3 linked regions of the Homo sapiens genome follow. The protein of the gene in region 1 interacts with the protein of each later gene in a pairwise test. Each region holds a gene or a part of one and is shown in the gene's direction. Other genes may lie near its edges.

Evidence for each region.
Region 2: the proteins of SLF1 (region 1) and USP21 interact in a two-hybrid assay, tested with the Homo sapiens proteins (one study listed by BioGRID).
Region 3: the proteins of SLF1 (region 1) and SLF2 interact in binary tests that used the Homo sapiens proteins (3 or more experiments, as listed by UniProt).

What each region holds. Positions count from the first base shown.
Region 1 is NC_000005.10:94,663,462-94,670,977, forward strand, and holds part of SLF1 (SMC5-SMC6 complex localization factor protein 1), read left to right. Parts: intron 1-288; coding exon 289-447; intron 448-2,399; coding exon 2,400-2,563; intron 2,564-6,689; coding exon 6,690-6,818; intron 6,819-7,381; coding exon 7,382-7,516. UniProt on the Homo sapiens protein: Plays a role in the DNA damage response (DDR) pathway by regulating postreplication repair of UV-damaged DNA and genomic stability maintenance.
Region 2 is NC_000001.11:161,162,172-161,166,223, forward strand, and holds the end of USP21 (ubiquitin carboxyl-terminal hydrolase 21), read left to right. Parts: intron 1-98; coding exon 99-219; intron 220-443; coding exon 444-555; intron 556-747; coding exon 748-903; intron 904-1,383; coding exon 1,384-1,448; intron 1,449-1,706; coding exon 1,707-1,810; intron 1,811-1,992; coding exon 1,993-2,079; exon of another isoform or gene 2,080-2,085; intron 2,086-2,362; coding exon 2,363-2,441; coding exon of another isoform or gene 2,442-2,663; coding exon 2,664-2,771; intron 2,772-2,857; coding exon 2,858-2,972; intron 2,973-3,185; coding exon 3,186-3,276; 3' UTR 3,277-3,552; downstream 3,553-4,052. Other genes in the region: PPOX (protoporphyrinogen oxidase), read left to right, coding at 3,897-4,002. UniProt on the Homo sapiens protein: Deubiquitinates histone H2A, a specific tag for epigenetic transcriptional repression, thereby acting as a coactivator.
Region 3 is NC_000010.11:100,908,765-100,916,152, forward strand, and holds the start of SLF2 (SMC5-SMC6 complex localization factor protein 2), read left to right. Parts: upstream 1-4,198; 5' UTR 4,199-4,346; coding exon 4,347-4,486; coding exon of another isoform or gene 4,487-4,538; exon of another isoform or gene 4,539-6,305; intron 6,306-7,234; coding exon 7,235-7,278; intron 7,279-7,388. UniProt on the Homo sapiens protein: Plays a role in the DNA damage response (DDR) pathway by regulating postreplication repair of UV-damaged DNA and genomic stability maintenance.

The sequences.
Region 1 (7,516 bases):
GGTGAAACCCCGTCTCTGCTAAGAATACAAAAATCAGCTGGGTGTGGTGGCACGCATCCATAGGCCCAGCTATTCAGGAGGTTGAGGCAGGAGAATCACTTGAACCTGGGAGACGGAGGTTGCAAGTGAGCCGAGATCGCACCACTGCATTCCAGCCTGGGTAACAGAGTGAGACTCCGTCTCAAATGAATGAATGAATAAATAAATAATAAATTCTTACTAATTCATGATTTGATTGCAAAATTTTATCTTTCTTTTCTCTGAATCATAGAATCTTTCCTTTCTTAGGTTAAAAATGCTGAATTTCCCAGAGGTGTATTAAATTTAATTGAAAGCCTCATAGAAGGACATTTTTTTAAAGAAGCAATTGAGGAACTTTCCACTTTGCAGGCACATTATATCCCTCCTGTATGCGTTCTTCATGCCCTTCTAGAGAACGTTCTACAGGTAAGAGCAGCCTTAAGGATTTATAATCTTTTTTTCAAAGAATGTTAAAATGTGAACATTTTCTCACTTTTTGTATGTTTACAGTTTATTTTCCCTGTTCAGTGTTTTTTTTTCTTCATTTCACTAATGCAGTACCCATTTATTACTACTGTTCTGTTTTCCAGCTACATACTAGGTACTACTCTTAGTGCTTTAGCTAATGATTTTCTCAGGATTTCTAAGATAATTTTGTTTTGGGGAAAAAGGTTATCTAATTTTTCTCACGGCAGTAAAGTATCAAATATAAAATTCAGATTATGGTGATCTAGAATTACATTTGGTAAATTACTCCATTAGTACATTGATGATTATCATTTTTATTTATAGTATACATAATGAACATACTCTTTGTTTAAAAAGAAATAGAGGCAAGTTCCCTCTCTGTTGTCCAGGCTGGACTGCAGTGGTGTGATCATGGCTCACTGTGGCCTCAACCTCCTGGGCTCAAGTAGTCCCCCTGCTTCAGCCTCCCAAGTAGCTGGGACTGTAGGCGCATGCCACCATGCCTGGCTAATTTTTAAATTTTTTGTAGAGATGGAGTCTTGCTATGTTGCCCATGCTGGGAACATACCCAAACTGTGTAAACCAATAGGAACAAATATTCAAAGATCGCTTTCTAATCATGCCCTTCACCAAGGTGCTAATTTGATAACATAACAGGCATAAGCTTTGTCAGGTATGTTATGTTGGTGATAAGTAAGCATGTTGCATGAATAGTTTGTTACTTTTAGTTCCTTTCAGGTAACATTTGAGACCTCTTAAATCTCACTATAATTGTGAAAAGGAAAATGTGTATTCCATCTAAGGTAGTGTTAATAGAAGGGATTACCCAATGTATAGATAGAGTCATCCCTTGCTGTCACAGGATATTGGTTTCAGGACCTTTGTGGATACTGAAATCTGCACATAATCAAGTCCTGCAGTTGCTTCTTCAGAACCTGCACTTATAGGAAAAGTCAGCCCTCCACATACGAAGGTTTTACATCCTGTGAATACTGTATTTTTAAAGGTTTTTCTTTTAGAGGTAATTGTAAAATTTTCCCTTACTACTAGGGAAAAAAATTTCCTTCACTACTGAAGGCAATAGAAAATAATTAATACAATAACTAATAAGATACAGTCATACATATCATCCTCTTTGAACTACATAATCTCATTCAGCAGCAAGGGCAGGAATTATCTTTATTTTACAGGTGAGGAAATTAAAACTTCTTAGTAGGCCGGGTGCTGTGGCTCACACCTGTAATTCCAGCACTTTCAGAGGCCGAGGCCTCCCAAATACAGAATACTGTATTTAATTGCAGTTGTAGAACCTATGGACGTGAAGGGTAGGCTGCATTTATTGGAAAAAAATTCATGTGTAAGTGGACCCATGCAGTTAAAACCTGTTATTCAGGTATCAGCTGTACATAGAGTGTGCCTGTCTCTCAGTTGCTTTATTTAATTAGCTAAACATGATGCTTCCATCTGCTCTCCTTTGTCTAAACACGTATATTTGGCAAGAAACTTAGGCCAGCGTTAGGCCGGGCGTGGTGGCTCACACCTGTAATCCCAGCACTTTGGGAGGCTGAGGTGGGCAGATCACAAGGTCGGGAGTTCAAGACTAGCCTGGCCAACATAGTGAAATCCCATCTCTACTAAAAATACAAAAATTAGCCAGGCATGGTGGTGGGTGCCTGTAGTCCCAGCTACTTACTCAGGAGGCTGAGGCAGAAAAATCGCTTGAACCCAGGAGGCGGAGGTTGAGGTAAGCCAAGATCGTGCCACTGCACTCCAGCCTGGGTGACAGAGCCAGACTCCGTCTCAAAAAAGAAAGTTAGGCCAGGGTTACTGTTTTGGTTTTAGACTGAATTAGAGAGTCAAACTACTTTTAGCTATAGTGTTTTATTTGTTTGTTTATTTTTAAATAATAGGATAACATAGATACATTTTCTGGTCGATACTTTCATATATTGTCAGCTCTTCTTCACCTGCATCCTCCTTGGAAGTCTCCAGCCATGTCGAGATATTATTTAGAGTTGTTTCAGTGTCCAACTTGTATGAAAGGAGCATGGTCTTTAGTAGAAGTCCTTATCAGGTAAGGAATTTCACATTTGACGATGCTACATTTCATTGAGTAGTTGTTATGCTAATTATTTTTTTAAGATACTGATGAAAGAAGTATCTTTCTACTTTTGGAAAAGTTTTGTTGCAAATACAAATATGTATTGTATTTATTGCAAAACTTATGAAAAGGCAAATCTATATTGGTCATGTTTTTCAGTCTGTTTCCTAAAAAAATAAAAAATGAATGCATGAAATGGACTCACTAGAAAGCCAAATCATTATTATTTTTAACAAAATAGAAATTTGTGTATTGTTTTTTAAATGAAGAAAATTAATTTATGGAATATGCATATCATCAGTTTTTGTCACCAAAAGTGTAGACATTTGTAACTATAGTATCTATTTTAGGGCTTCAGTTATATTTTTTTCAGCTAGAAATTTGAATTTTAAAACAGAACTTAATATTTCCTAAATATGTCATCTCTTTTATGCTTCTGCACATGCTGTCACTGCCTAGACCTTCCTCTGTCTTTCAGTTGTTAGTGTCTCCAGAAATTCTGTTTCACCTTCTTTCTCCCTAACAGAAAATGTTTTCCCCTTGCTATTCAAATAACTGTATTTGATAACCCTTATTCTTCTGGGAAGATCTTTTCTTTTTTTGAGACATGAGTCTCGCTCTGTCACCCAGGCTGGAGTGCAGTGGCCTGATCTTGGCTCACTGTAACCTCTACCTCCCAGGCTCAAGCAATTCTTATGCCTTAGCCTTCCAAGTAGCTAGAGTTACAGGCATGTGCCTCCACGTCCAGCTAATTTTTGTATTTTTTCATTTTTAGTAGAGATGGGCTTTTACCATGTTGGCCAGGCTGGTCTCGAATTGCTGGCCTCAAGTGATCTGCCTGACTTGGGCTCCCAAAGTCCTGGGATTATAGGAGTGGACCATCACGCCTGGCTGGGAAGATCTTTTTTTTTTTTTTTTTTTTTTTAATTTAAGTGTCCAGTTTCAGGAGGTTCATAGTGGAGAAAGGACACCTGACTAGCCATGCAAAGGCTAGACCTCTGGTTAGCTCTTTGAGATCATAAAGATTCACATACCATCTTGGTTGTGATATATTTAAAGTGAGCTAATCAGTTAACCAGCATGCATTTATTCATTCTTTTAACAAATTCTTGAGTACTTACGGAGAGCCAGACACTGTACTACATTTTAGGGATTAAAAAGATGATTTAAATAACAGTTCCTGCACTTTGAAAGTGACTGAGATGTAAACAATACCGCACAAAAGTACAAGCCCAACAGTACAAGCCCAGCATAGGTATATGATGTGAGAAAATAGAGTTTATGTGGCTGACATCCTTCATAATTTCCAAATCTATTCCTTTCTTCACTGTCAATTGTCTTTATTTTAAAGTTCCTGTTTCTTCTTATATAAACTATTGCAGTAGCTGCTTTATTGATCTTGGGTCTACTTTTTTCCTTTTAATTTTTCTTCCAAAGTACCCCCCCACAGTATGCTCTTTCCAAAGTGATCTTGTCATTTCCCATATTAAAGTCCTTCATTGACTCACATACATTGAACTACCTATAGAAGATGGTTCAGATTTCTTAGCGAAATACGTAAGACCCTTCATGAGTTAGCCCTTATATATGTCTCAGTTCTCATCTTCACCACTTTCTTGAATGTGTCCAATAGTTATTTTCCATATCCTGTCTTTTGCTCTTATGTTTTCCGAATTTCCTAGCTTTTTTGTTTGTTTGTTTGTTTTGTTTTGTTTTGTTTTTTAAGACACTCTGTTGCCCAGACTGGAGTGCAATGGCACAATCACGGCTCACTGCAGCCTGAAACTCCCAGGCTCAGGTGATCCTCCCGCCTCAGCCTCCTGAATAGCTGGGACTACAGGCATGTGCTCCCACGCCTGGCTAGTTTTGTATTTTTTGTAGAAATGGGGTTTTACCATGTTTCCCAGGCTGGTCTCCACCACTTGAGCTCAAGTTTTCTGCCCGCCTCAGCCTCCCAAAGTGCCAGGATTAAAGGCATGAGCCACCATGCCTCACTGCTTCGTTTCACTTCTCTTCTCTCTTCTCTCCTCTCTCCTCTCCTCTCTTCTCCTTTGTCCCTTGTCTTCACTTTTCTTCCTTTCCCTTTTCCCTTTTCTTTTCTCTTCTTTCCTTTTCAAATCTCACTGTCACCAAGGACAGTGTGCAGTGGCGGGATCATAGCTCACTGCAATCTTGAGCTCCTGGGTTCAGGCCACTCTCCTGCCTCAGCCTCCTGAGTACCTGGGACTACAGGTGCCCACCACCACACCTGGCCAATTTTGTTGTTGTGGTTGTGGTTGTAGTTTGTTTGTTTGTTTTTTGAGAAGAAGTTTCGCTCTGTTGCCCAGGCTGGAGTGCAGTGGTGCGATCTCGGCTCACTGCAACCTCCGCCTCGCAGGATCAAGCGATTCTCCTGCCTCAGCCTCCCAAGTAGCTGGGATTACAGGCATGCGCCACCACGCCTTGCTGATTTTTTTTTGTATTTGGTAGAGATGGAGTTTTACCATGTTGGTCAGGCTGGTCTCAAACTCCTGACCTTAGGTGATCCACCCGCCTCCACTTCCCAAAGTGCTGGGATTACAGGCATGAGCTACTGTGCCAGGCCTACATGACTAATTTTTAAATTTTTTGTAGAGGTGAAGTCTCCCTGTGTTGCCCAGGCTGGTCTCAAATTCCTGGGCTCAAGCAATCCTCCTACCTTGTCCTCCCAAAGCACTGGGATTACAGGAATGGGCCACCATGCTCAGCCATAGTTTTCCCTTAAAATGCAATTTAGCTGCCACTTTCTTACTCTTGACCTTTCCTTTAAGTTTGTCATTCACATCAGGCCTATGACTTTCTTAAAGAGAGGTGCTCAGTCTTGTTTTTCTTTCTTTAAACTTCCCTCTTACAGAAGGTGTTCAGTCTTAAATATCTCCATCCTTAATATCTAATATAATGCCTGGAATGTAAGTACTTAATAAAGGTTTGGATGAATTTATTGATGCTGTAGGTGATAGATTTTGGGCAGCTTAAAAATAGACTTTTAAACAAAAATACCCAGATTTCATTTCAAAATAATGGGGTACTGTGGAGGTGCTTAGGGAAGTGGTAGGAATATGAATGAGCTAAGTAATACTAGTCTCTACTTTTGTATATATTTGAAATATTCCATAATGCATAGAGAAACGTAAGTTCTCTATCTCTGACAGTTTTCAGAAAGACTGATTAACTATGTGGGCATGAAGGATCTTATAGATAGATTGAATATTAAATAAATTGTTAAAGCTACTAAGGACTCTCCTGAGAATGTTGTATTAAAAAAGAAGACAGCGGAAGTGGAGACAGAGGTAGAAAGTTATAAGTGCATTGTTGATATAATCAATAAGAAAAGTGGGAGATTGTAATAAATAGTGTTACCTAGACACTATTTCTTAAATCCTAGAGTTCTGAGTAATCTTCTATTCTCTTTAGAAATATATTATAGAAGTGTGCTGTCTGACCCAATAGCCACTAGCCATATCTATTTATATTTAAATTTTATTCAGACAAAGTAATTAAAAATGTGGGTCCTTGGGTATACAAGCCACATTTCAAGTGTCTAGTAGAACATATACATCATCACAGAAAGTTCAGTTGGAGAGGACTGCTCTAGAAGACAGAAAGAAAATAAAATAATGAATATTAAAAACGCTAAAAAAGTAGCCCTAAATAATCTTCATTTACTAACTAATGAAAAAGAAAGTAATCTTGGGTAAGAAAGAGGAGGATTCTGGCGAGTATTATAAATTGAGAGGTTAGCTGGTCATTTAAATCAAAAGGACTTAATGAAATCTATAATCTTTGTTCTCATCAGTGAAATAAAGAGCACAAAGGGAGAGTACCTGCTAGTCATTAAATATTATAATAACTTGAAAAATTGAGAAATTAGATCTATTTATTAAGAATTAAGTACTCATGAGATATTTGACATTGTTTAATTTTTGAAGGAAGAAATATATTCATAAAATTTTGTTGAACTTTCTATTTTAAGAAAATTTTATTAAAATTCCAGCAGTATTCTAGAAGGAGAAATATTTTGTTCACAAATGACTTAGTGAATTGCTTGTATGTTATAGATTTTTGGGTTCATGTTTTTCAGGTCTTGCCTTTTCAATGAAAGCTTTTGTCATCAAATTTCAGAAAATATTGGCTCCAAGGTGCTCCACCTGACGCTACTCAAATTTTTCTTTAATTTAATTGAAAGTGAAGTACAACATCTGAGTCAAAAGTAAGTTCTAATCGCAAGAATAACACTTTTCTAAATTTTGGTTGTTTTTATGCACCATTTTTTTTTTACAATTATTATAAATATATTTCTAAAAAGTCACCTTATTTTCTATTTTAAGATAGATTTGTTTTTAAAACATATTTCCAGATATTCTCAGTGGGAGTAAAGGTTTATATGCCCTTTTAAAAAATTTCCTCAGTTCACTTCCACTGTTCATTTGGATGGATAATAGTGTTTTCATTTTTTAGGATTTTAAAAAAATTCTTTAGTAATTGAATGCTAAGTAAAAAACTACACCAATTTTAAACACTGAGCCTACAATGGTAAGTTTTGCTCCTGCTCTAAAACTTGCAGATAGATTACTGTGTATATATACATTGTCAGTGACTTTATTGAACTGGGGCCATTTTTTATATTTTGTCCTTTATTATAATTGTTATAATCTTTATATTTTATGATCTATGTTCAAAAATTGCTAGCATTTTTTTTGACAGGAGAGATGTCAAGTAATTGTCATGATCAAATTGGCTTAAAGATATACTTTTTGTTTATATTTTAATTAGGTTGTATGACTGGTCAGATTCTCAGAATCTGAAAATAACAGGAAAGGCAATGCTTCTTGAAATTTTTTGGTCAGGAAGTGAAACCTCTGGGCTTTTGACCAAACCAGTAAATATGCTTTTGGAATGGACTATATA
Region 2 (4,052 bases), on another chromosome or scaffold:
CTTGGGGAAGGCATGTGGAAGGAGAGCTCTGAAGCTCTTCTAAGGCTTCCTGGGCAGTGGTCTGGAGAGATAACAGCAGTGTCCCTACTGCTCCCCAGTGCTTCCTGAATGCTGTGCTGCAGTGTCTGAGCAGCACTCGACCTCTTCGGGACTTCTGTCTGAGAAGGGACTTCCGGCAAGAGGTGCCTGGAGGAGGCCGAGCCCAAGAGCTCACTGAAGGTGGGGCAACAACTCCTGCTCCCTCTGTTCAAGTCCCTTTTTCCCCAACCACTTGCAGGTCCATCTGCCACTGGTGGTGGCCCCCAACCCTTAAATCTGGCAGTTGTATCTACTTTTCCCAGTGCCTACTTTCCTAAAGGTTATTTTCTACCCTCTGAGCCACCTTTTGCTTGCCTCTTCCAGACATTAACCTTTGTTTGCCTTCCCCACTCCCATCCCAACAGCCTTTGCAGATGTGATTGGTGCCCTCTGGCACCCTGACTCCTGCGAAGCTGTGAATCCTACTCGATTCCGAGCTGTCTTCCAGAAATATGTTCCCTCCTTCTCTGGATACAGGTGGGAGAGCTGGAGGCTATGGGATTTCTCTCTGGCCATGTCTGGGGGTAGGGCCAAGCAAGGGCCCTGGCAGCATTGTTCTGAGCCTTGAGATGTTCTTCATCCAGGAAGTGGGGACCAATATCTGGGCAGGGAATAGTGTCTGTGGACTAGGAGAGGAGTCAGTTGCCCATACTCTTTGTCTGGCTGTAGCCAGCAGGATGCCCAAGAGTTCCTGAAGCTCCTCATGGAGCGGCTACACCTTGAAATCAACCGCCGAGGCCGCCGGGCTCCACCGATACTTGCCAATGGTCCAGTTCCCTCTCCACCCCGCCGAGGAGGGGCTCTGCTAGAAGAACCTGAGTTAAGGTAAGGGTCGTTCCCTCTACCTCCTTTCCCCGTAGTTTATCAGCATCATTCACACTTCATAGAACTAAACTAGTAAAGATTGAAGATGTAGGGTCCAGGGAAACCCTTTAGTATAGAAAATAGTATGAGAAGCAACATAGAAGTAGAAGGAAGGAAGGAAGAGGGGGAGTCTAAGGGAGCAGATGGAGGCAGAAGATCATGCTAGGGATGTCACCAAATTGAAGAAGGGGATAATTCATTTACAGGTAGAGGAAGACAGCATATTCTTCCCTTATGTACATTCCTTTCTTTTCCTCTCACCTCGGATTTCCCTAGAAAGTTCATTGAGGCATTATTCTTTTGACTTTTCCTTGAAATTTAGGGAAGGAGCAGGGGTGTGGATGGGGAGTAGGGCTCTGTAGGTTGTTTCAGTGGGTGTTGGGGGTGCCCAGTGTTCCTGCTGTCTCATGGGTGCTCCCCACTTCCTTTGATCTGTGGTAGTGATGATGACCGAGCCAACCTAATGTGGAAACGTTACCTGGAGCGAGAGGACAGCAAGATTGTGGGTATGGAATGGGGCAAAGCAATGAGGGAAAATTAGTGTGTGAGGGGGGTACAGGCTTGGGGGGAAAAATCGATACTATCAAGGGGTATGGGAACAAGACTGGATGATGCAAATGTGAAGCTGTGTGAAGAGTTGATTAGGAGTGTTGGTAGTGGGAAAGGAAGGGTCAAGCAAAGGGGCAGGAAGAGATGGAAATCCAAGAAATCATCTCATAACATCCAACAATGACCTTTTCTCCTGTCCCTGTGCTTCTGTCTAGACCTGTTTGTGGGCCAGTTGAAAAGTTGTCTCAAGTGCCAGGCCTGTGGGTATCGCTCCACGACCTTCGAGGTTTTTTGTGACCTGTCCCTGCCCATCCCCAAGGTGGGATTCCAGAGGATTCCGGGGTGGACAGGACAGGGGCTCTGTGACCCAAGCCTACCCACCCCCAGAGTGTGGGCGGGAACCCTGTGGGTTTCTGGAGCAGAACTGAAGCCTGGATTGATTGAGAAGAGTTGGAAAAGGAAATTCAGAACATGTTGACCTTTCTTCCCCTTTTCCCCCAGAAAGGATTTGCTGGGGGCAAGGTGTCTCTGCGGGATTGTTTCAACCTTTTCACTAAGGAAGAAGAGCTAGAGTCGGAGAATGCCCCAGTATGTGGAGGTTCACAAGGGATACAGTAAGGGTGGGAGACCTGGGGGGACTCCATGTGGATAAAAGGGATTGCATGATGTCTTCATATGGGGAATAATATTTATGTATCTGGGTTTGTGTTGGAGTCTCAGATCTGTTCTAGTACTCCTAGAGCAAAGGGGAGAAGCCAAGAGGATCCAGCTGTAATGAAGAGCATACTAAATTTGTATGTGGATCGGGGTGTCAGAAAAGCCAATTGAGGTTAGGAGCATATTAACCTAACACTGTTTGCCATTTATTCAGGTGTGTGACCGATGTCGGCAGAAAACTCGAAGTACCAAAAAGTTGACAGTACAAAGATTCCCTCGAATCCTCGTGCTCCATATCCTAATCTTCAGATTCTTACTTCTCTTAGGATACCTCCCATACATTCTCTTTCCTCCATGTTTCCAGAGAATTGAATTTTCCTTAGGAAAAGTCTGCCACCCACTTTTCCACAAGATGCTCCCAGTGTGTCGGGAGTGGGGAGAGGACAGCTTTCAGGATAGAAGAAGTTCCCCTCAGAGGCCCACTGCCTCCCAAATGCTCCTTAACCAGGGCTTAGATCTGAATCGATTTTCTGCCTCCCGAGGCTCCATCAAAAAAAGTTCAGTAGGTGTAGACTTTCCACTGCAGCGACTGAGCCTAGGGGACTTTGCCAGTGACAAAGCCGGTGAGTCTGGTGGGGAAAGTCCTAAGGAGCCAAAGGAGTGGGGGCACAGCTCTGATTATAGAACTTGATCATCTCCAACCCCGCAGGAAGTCCTGTATACCAGCTGTATGCCCTTTGCAACCACTCAGGCAGCGTCCACTATGGCCACTACACAGCCCTGTGCCGGTGCCAGACTGGTTGGCATGTCTACAATGACTCTCGGTGAGAATAGCCTCCTATTTACATCCTGCCCCATTCCCACTCAGCCCTGACACCCTCCCCTTCTATGAAGCTCCAGGAGAGCAGAGTGCCAGGTGAAAGGAGAGGTGGAGGTCTTGCCTGATCATTTCCTGGATGCTCTGAGGTTCGGTCTTGTAGGGAGAAGGGAGTAAACAGGAATGACCACAACCCTTTCCCGATCTCCTTTTTTCCTAGTGTCTCCCCTGTCAGTGAAAACCAGGTGGCATCCAGCGAGGGCTACGTGCTGTTCTACCAACTGATGCAGGAGCCACCCCGGTGCCTGTGACACCTCTAAGCTCTGGCACCTGTGAAGCCCTTTAAACACCCTTAAGCCCCAGGCTCCCCGTTTACCTCAGAGACGTCTATTTTTGTGTCTTTTTAATCGGGGAGGGGGGAGGGGGTGGTTGTAGCTCCATTATTTTTTTTATTAAAAAATACCCTTCCACCTGGAGGCTCCCTTGTCTCCCAGCCCCATGTACAAAGCTCACCAAGCCCCTGCCCATGTACAGCCCCCAGACCCTCTGCAATATCACTTTTTGTGAATAAATTTATTAAGAAAAAATGATGTGCTTATTTGTATTTTTGCTTAGGGGGTGATAGAGAACTGAGCCAAATTGGAGTCTTCTTGGGACCCAAGTTCCCTCTCTAACAGGTGGGGGCGCTCTCAGAGCCGAGGGGGAAGGTTTCGGGGATGGTGCTGGACCCGGACCTGTGTCCCCCAGCAGTGAAGGTTATGTACTGGGAGGAAAAGAGGAAAGGCATACTTGAGTGAGGCTGCGTGCAGGCTCTGGGGCGACTGGTTTGGTCGGCGATGGGGGAGTGCCACTGTTGACAAACACTGGGTACGTTGCCGGGCGGCCCTAGCTCCCGTAGGCCCGGTCTGTTGCTAACATCAAGGAGCTGTTTATGGAGCCGCCTCCCCGTGGACTGGCCTTAAGTGTCCCTATCTATTCTCCCTACGACCAAAGCTCCTGCGGCCTTCCCTCTAGGGTTGTCACCCTAGCTGGACCTGGTAAGCTTGTGCTGGGGAACGCTAACTCCAGCATTAAGCGCTCGCCGCCT
Region 3 (7,388 bases), on another chromosome or scaffold:
TGCCACCAATACACACAAGTATGAAATATGAACACAGATTACAGCAATGACTTTTAAATATTTCGACCATGGCCCAAAGCAGGGGCCACAGGAATACCTTTTACATCACTACCATATAAAATATATATACAATTGAAGAAGTAAAAAGTTGCAAAACAACACATGCCCATATGTTGTGTGCAGTGAACAGACATTCTCTATTCCATTGTCTTTTTCTTTTTTAAAAACATGGTCTGTAACCCATTACATCAATTTCAAAATCCTCTAAGGAGCTGCTAACCGGGTGTGAAAAACACCTAAATATGGGATAGAATCCCTAAAATCAATATTTCCCCAAGAGTTTCTTATATTTCAGATGTACGAGTAATATCTACGCCTATCAATGCCTACCACCACCACTGGTAAACAAGATAACTCTAGAAGAAACTTGGATATATTTATATTTTTAAACTAGTTATATATTTTTACTAGTATTAGTTTTTAGTTATCTTCCATTTTAGGAAATTGATACTGATTTTCCACTTACGGGAATGATTTAAAGTTTTCTCCTAAAATAAATGTACTTAAATTTAAAAAGCAATTTAAGGAAAAACATTAATAAACAGCATAGGAAATATTCAGACATGTTGAAAATCACAAATACGTGTCTCATGTATCTGAAGTGTGGGAAACTATCTGGCACCATTCTATCATGATAGAACAAGAAATGGACGTTCCTTCACATTAGATCTGCTTTTGCGCAGCTCTACTAATTACTCCCAGAACGTTAGGTTACATGACATGATATTAGTTTACATTTGGCTTTTCCCCAGCAGCCGCTTAAACCTGGGAGGTCCTTTTTCCAAGCACTTGGGCAGTTTCGAGTTTGGCATCCTTTTGCACAGTGATTTGTGTGGATCTTGAGATGCTGTGAGCTTGCCATCCCTTCTTGAGATCATCACGTGGTCTGTCTTTCTCTGTCAGGCTTTCAAGTTAATTATTTCCTGTTTTTCTGAGTCTGTTCCTTATCCCCCTTCCCAGGCCACCCTCTACCCTCACCTTCACCTCCCCCCAGCAGTTCTACAGAAAATCAGTCTTTGTCTCTTGGCCTGCCCTAGAACACCTTCCAACAAGAGCCTTGGAGTTAATTAAATGTGTGGCAATTTCAGAGCAAAAATTTATTACTGGGTACAATCAGAAATTACTTTTAGAGTTCTTTGCTTTTTGGTAACATTCTCTGTCACTTACTGACCTTTTGTTCTCAGTCCCTGCCTGCTTAAGGTACTGTGTGAACCAATCTGCCCAAGCTGTTTTCTCTCTGTGTGACTGCTTAAGATCTCTGGCATGAGTTATACTGTCACTCCTCTCAGGAACTCCCACGTTGGGCTTGATTTTCCCAGCAAACTTGATCTGTTGTTCATGTAACATTGTTTCTGCTGCTGTCCCATTCCTTCTCATCAAGGCCAGAGCCCCCTCCTCCTGTTGTCTTTAACAAGGCAGGGTGCTAAACTGAGCTGAGCTGCACCCCCACAGAAGCTTTGTGCAAAGAAGCCACTCCATTTCTTCAATCTTTGCATCCTCATCCCATCCCCATGCCCAGAAATCTTCCCAAACTAGCCTTTTATGGTCATCCAGCCTTAATTTCTCTTTTCTTCCAAATCCCAGCTAAGTTTTGTCTTAAGTCTCTAACTGGGTTTGGTTACATTGTTCAATGTCCTTTCCCCCCAGTAACCCCCCTGCCATCCTAGTTTTCTCTCCCCTATTAGCTCCTCCTAAGCACGCATCTGAACTCCTTAAATCTTTTACCTAGTGTAGTTTCCTGGTCATCTCCTTTTAGCCCACTACAAATTGAAGTGTAAAAAACCCTTACAATAAACATGTGTGCGTGCACACGCATGCATGGTATATACGTACACATTTAAACTAGGAGAAAGGATATAAACACAAAATAGACTGTCCAGTACTATTTGGGGGTGGGAGGTGGAGAAGAGCCCTAGGCCCTAGAAGTTCCCCTGGGGTTCTTATTAATATGTTGAACATATTTCACCCTGCAACCCAAATCTGTACCACTTTCGTACACAGCTTAAACAAAGAAGAGTCTTGATGCTTATTGAGGATTTAGATAACTACTTCCCGTTAAGAAGATATTTTTAAAATTGTGTTTTCATTATGACTCCATCTCCATTTATTGATCGAGGGATTTCTTGCCTCACTTAACTCCATAATCTGTTACTCAGATTAAGAAAATGAGAAAACTATTGTTTGGTAGTTTGAGTACAGGCTTTAAAGTGATACTTTGGAGGCTGGATGATTCAAGTACTATAATCCAAGAAAAGCAACTAAATGATCATGCAGAACGTGTTTTTATGCATTACTCTTTATCGATTAGGCATGCAAGGAAATGAATCGGATTAAATGTTTCGTAGATGTGCTCTGTTATAGTACAGAAACTTCCTAGTGTAAAAACATCCAACAGAAAGCACTAAGAGATAGGAAATAATACATGTAAAATGCAAATGTGTAAGTCATTCAACACATTTTGAGTATCATGTTTTTTTATGTAAAAAACAATGTTACGTATAGTAAATTCTCCGCTATTAGGAGCAGAAAAGTACCCTCTATTTTGGCACTTCCCTTCTTCCGCCACCATTAGCTAGTATACAGCTGTACATATGTGCTTTTGGGGTGAATGTGAAACCTGTATATTCACTGTTTACCTTCGACCCTCTACTTTGCCAGCTTTTTGTCCACTTTATTCCTTATTAATTCTTCCTCCCGGGGACTAAAGGGGAAGGGAAAAGGAGGTGAACTTGGAGTCAGTCAGGCATGCTTAGTGACCAGAACAGTTCAATTTCGTTTTTTCTAAATTTTAATTAATTAATTTATTTTTGAGACAGGGTCTTGCTATGTTGCCCAGGCTAGTCTCCAACTCCCGGGCTCAAGCTATCCACCTGCCTTGGCCTCCCAAACTGCTGGGATTATAGATGTGAGCAACTGTATCAGGCCAATAGTTCAATTTCTATACAATAAACTTGAAAGACCCGTCCAAATTATTTTATATCATTTAAGATTTTTTTCCATCCAACTGATTAAATAACTCTGTCAATTAAAGCTTGGACATCTTGAAATTGATATTTTGGTTGTTAACAGTTATTGCAACAGTATTTGACCTGTCTCTGGAAGATTTTGTAAAGAAGTAAAATTCGCTGTAGGAATCTATCTGGGGAAGAAAGGGAACTATAATTTGCTCTGTACCTGTTACATGAGAGAATCTGAACTGTGCAGTGTACACTGTTTTATCCTTTTATGGTTTACAATTACCCAGAAAAGTGAGTAAAATGCCCGTTTTACAGATGTGGAGGCTGAGGTTCAGAGATACTGACCAGTCTCTCGGTTTATAAGGAAAACCATGGCTAACAGCCTCCAGAGCACAAGCCCTTTACAAAGGAGGGTTGGAGATTGCAGGCAGCTTTTACTTATCTATGCTGCCCACGCTTAACATGGAAAACTGAAAGCTGACCTTGTGTTCCTTTAAAAAATCTCCAAGGAAGTCGGCTGCAGAGACTTCATGGTAACTCATGAGAAACAAAATGCTTTTGTGGATTAACAACTGTCTTTATTCCAATGGAGTTTTTTGGGGGTTTTTTCTTCTTCTTAAAGACAAAAAAATAATCTACCGCTGACACTCAACAAGAACCGTCGTAGAATGGACAAGTCTTCGGATCGCGCTGTGCAGATCCCTCAGCAAATTGTGACAGTATTATGGCACTTTGGCCTAAGCTGTTAAAGAGACGATGTAATGAACAGCTGCGGATTTCTGAGGCACAATTGTGTGACACAGGAAGCCCAAGTGTTGGCCATCCTCAACGAAGGCAGCTGCCGGGCTCCGGTTTGCTTCAGCAAACCCTCACCCCTCGCCTTCAACCAGGCGGGTGTCGTCAGCTGTCCGCCAGCTGCTGCCCGCGCCTTTCCGCCCCCGCGCGCCGGCCAAGGCCGAGGCGGCCGGGACCAGAGGCGCGCGCCCTCAGTGCATGTGACGGGGTGGGAGGGGGAGGTTTCTTCCTCCCCCGTCCCCAAGCCCCGCCTTCTCCAGAGAGGCTGCGGCTTCCTATTGCGCCACCACCGAAATGACCACCGTGCCAGCCAATCAAGACGTGATTCATGAAGTAAGACCCGCCCCTTACTGGTCCCCAGGTTCCTTCCCGCTCACGCCGGAGTCACTTCCGAAGAGAGAACCGCCATGAAGAGAGAAGGGGGTGCCGCCCACCTCTGCTCCGACAGCCTCCCGGAGTCCCAGCAGCAAGACGGCAACCACGCACCCAACTTCTCCAGCCACGGCTCATGCCGCCGTCGCCAGCGGCGCCGACATGACAAGGCGCTGCATGCCCGCTAGGCCAGGTTTCCCCTCATCCCCAGCCCCGGGGTCGTCGCCCCCGCGCTGCCATCTGAGACCCGGTAGTACCGCCCATGCTGCAGCGGGAAAGAGAACAGAGAGTCCTGGGGACAGGTACCGTGCAGAGGGCTTGAGAAGGGGCCGGGTCGCGGGGGCAAGGGTATGAGGGGAGGGCTGCAGACCGCCGCTCTTCCAGTTCCCGCCATCCTCCGCGAGCTCAGGCGTTGGCATTTCGGGGCCTGGCAAATCCCCGCCCCGCCTCCGCGCAGGGGCTACTGGGAGTTGGAGTTTGCTTCTCTGTAGTTGGGCAGCTGCTCTTGGTCTAGTGACCACCAGCCTGGACAGCTACGGAGAACCCGCCTTAGGTAGAAAGAAAGTGATTTTTTTCCTTTGCAAGAGTTTGACCCGGGACCCTAACTGCTTAATGCATATTTAGATCGTTTTCTGTACGTTGTCAGTTCTACTGATCCTAGTGGTTTAGTAATATAAACCTTTTCTATGTTGTGGGTGAAATTATGTAACCTGTGATGAGGGAATCCCTTCCACGAATTACTTTGTAGTCCAGCGTGCACGCTAGTTCATACTTAAAAGAACTTGCAGATTTGGAATGTGACGTGTTTTCTCTTTCAGTAACTTCACGCCTCTCCAAGAGGCTAATTTTTTTGTAAAGATTTTGTGGGAGCTATGTAATGAGATGGGGAGTTTCATCTAATGACATCCTCTGACAATAAAACATGTTTAAATTCCCTACGAACTTGGTACTGTCTTTTATTTTAAGTTAAATTGTATTAAGTTTTAACAATATTCATGTTACTAATACTGTGGTACAGGCCCACAATCCCTTATCTTAACTCTGAAAGCCAGAAAGCTATGAAAACCAAAACGTTTTCAGTAAGTTTGGCACCACATCTTACTGGGCAGCCAGATCTGACTAAAACTAATGTAAGGCTGTTTGTGGTCTTTATCCCATTAAGTGTGAATATTCATGTTTTGCTGGAGAAATGTCAGTGGATTTGATTACAGGTTGCAGCACCAGACCCCACTGGGGACTTTCCATAATACATCCAAGTTATCCCCTTCCTAAAATCTGATAAATTCAGAATTCTAAAACACATTTGGCCCCAGAAGGTTCAGATAAGGGTTTGTGAAACTGTTATAATTGTGTGTGTGTGTGTGTTTTTTTTTAAGCCAGTTGTTAAATAAGCAGTGGACATTTTGTGTGCATATGAACTTAGAGAACCTACCTCTTGAAAGTTACATTCATGGTTATTTTACAGGTTTCTTGTATGTTTTACCCAAAATCATTTTTTCTCTTTCTGGTGTATTAATCAAAAAGGAGTCTGAGGTCCAATATTTTAGGGAAGAGATACAGTGTTACATTTAGTAAAATGCATTTAGAATTATCTTGTGTGCAACAAATGAGCTGCTTCTGGGTCCCTTCCCATCTCTCCTCAATCAATAACAAGATCAATAACAAGGTATCATCCTTCTTCCCTTTGCAGAACCTCCAACATTTACTCTGGTGGAGTTAATTTGCCTAGTATAATTTATGTAAACAAATGCATATATTCTTCCATAGCCCGTCACTCATATTCATCTCATAAGCACTTAGCTTTTATACCAGCATCTCAAACAAGCGTGATGGACTTGGTAAACCAGTAAAGATGTGCATTGCTCTTCTAATGTGACCAGTAAAGTGTACAAGAAGCTTAACCTTCAAGAAACTTGGATTGTTGGAATTTTCACTGAGCATTCCAACCTCATAGTGGATGAATGTTTAGGGAAATCAATAGTCTATAGCTTATTCTCTTTCAGTAAAATGATACATTTTAGCAAAATTTACCAGAAAGTTAATTTTTTGTTCAGCATATCATAACATCCCCTTTTTTGCAGCTGACAACTCTACAGTGAACAAATCAGAATACGAATTCTGGTAATGGATTCCTATTTCACTTTAGCATTATTGCCAATGTCAGAACTTGATTAGTTAAGCCAGATAATGAAATCCAGTCTTTACGGTACAGAAATTCTTAAAAATTAATTTGGTTTTTGTTATTCTTGTTAACTTTCTTCCTTTTCTCCTTGTGTTTTTCCCAAGCAATGTGTTATTTTTGTAACTATCTTAAGGATTCTTTGATAAAAAATTAAGAATTTGAAACTAGTTGTGACAACTCATTCTAATTTCTGCTGTTACTTAGATTAACATCTTAATGTATAAAGAGGGTAGCATAAGTTTGGTATTTTTCTTTTCTGCCCTTGTCCAGCAAACTCCTCTTCAACTGATTCCCTAGATCAGCCAAATCACCTGTATTGCCATTCTACCATCTACTGTTCTACTCTTGTTATGAGAGTCTGTTCAAGTTTTACTCCATTTTTATAATCCCCATTATTCATTTGGCATACATCTATTGAGTTTTTTTTTAGCTTGTTATTCTAAATTTTAAAACGCAGCTGTGCTTAGATACCAAGTAATTATTTTGTATCAATGTCTGCAGAGAACAAGTAGGTTCATATGCTGATACCCAAGATGTTGCATTCTACCATGTAGCCGTGAACATTTCAGTCTTAAGAAGCACTCTGTACTAATTCCTTGGGTCTACACACCAGTCTGACCTATTTAAGTACTATAAATAATATAAACCTCAGTTGTATTTTTATAAATGAACTCCTATAGGAAGTGATACGTTATATTTTCTGTTTTTTTAATGAACAGTTTAGCAAAGCATTGTTACCATTGTCAGAACTTTATTAAACCAAATAGTGAAATCCAGCCTTTATTTTATAAATCTTTCTCCATTTAATCTGAGTTATGAAGGTTTTAATATTTGCTTATATGATGCCATATTATGCTTTTATTTTCAGGAAGCAGTCAATTATAGATTTCTTCAAACCAGCTTCAAAACAAGGTATGTACACTGTTGATGCATTTTTTGTGGGCTATTTTGGGGGTGAGGAGAGAGACAGATTCAACTTTAAAACCTACTCTAAACTGTTTTAGTAAACGTAGTGTTCAAAA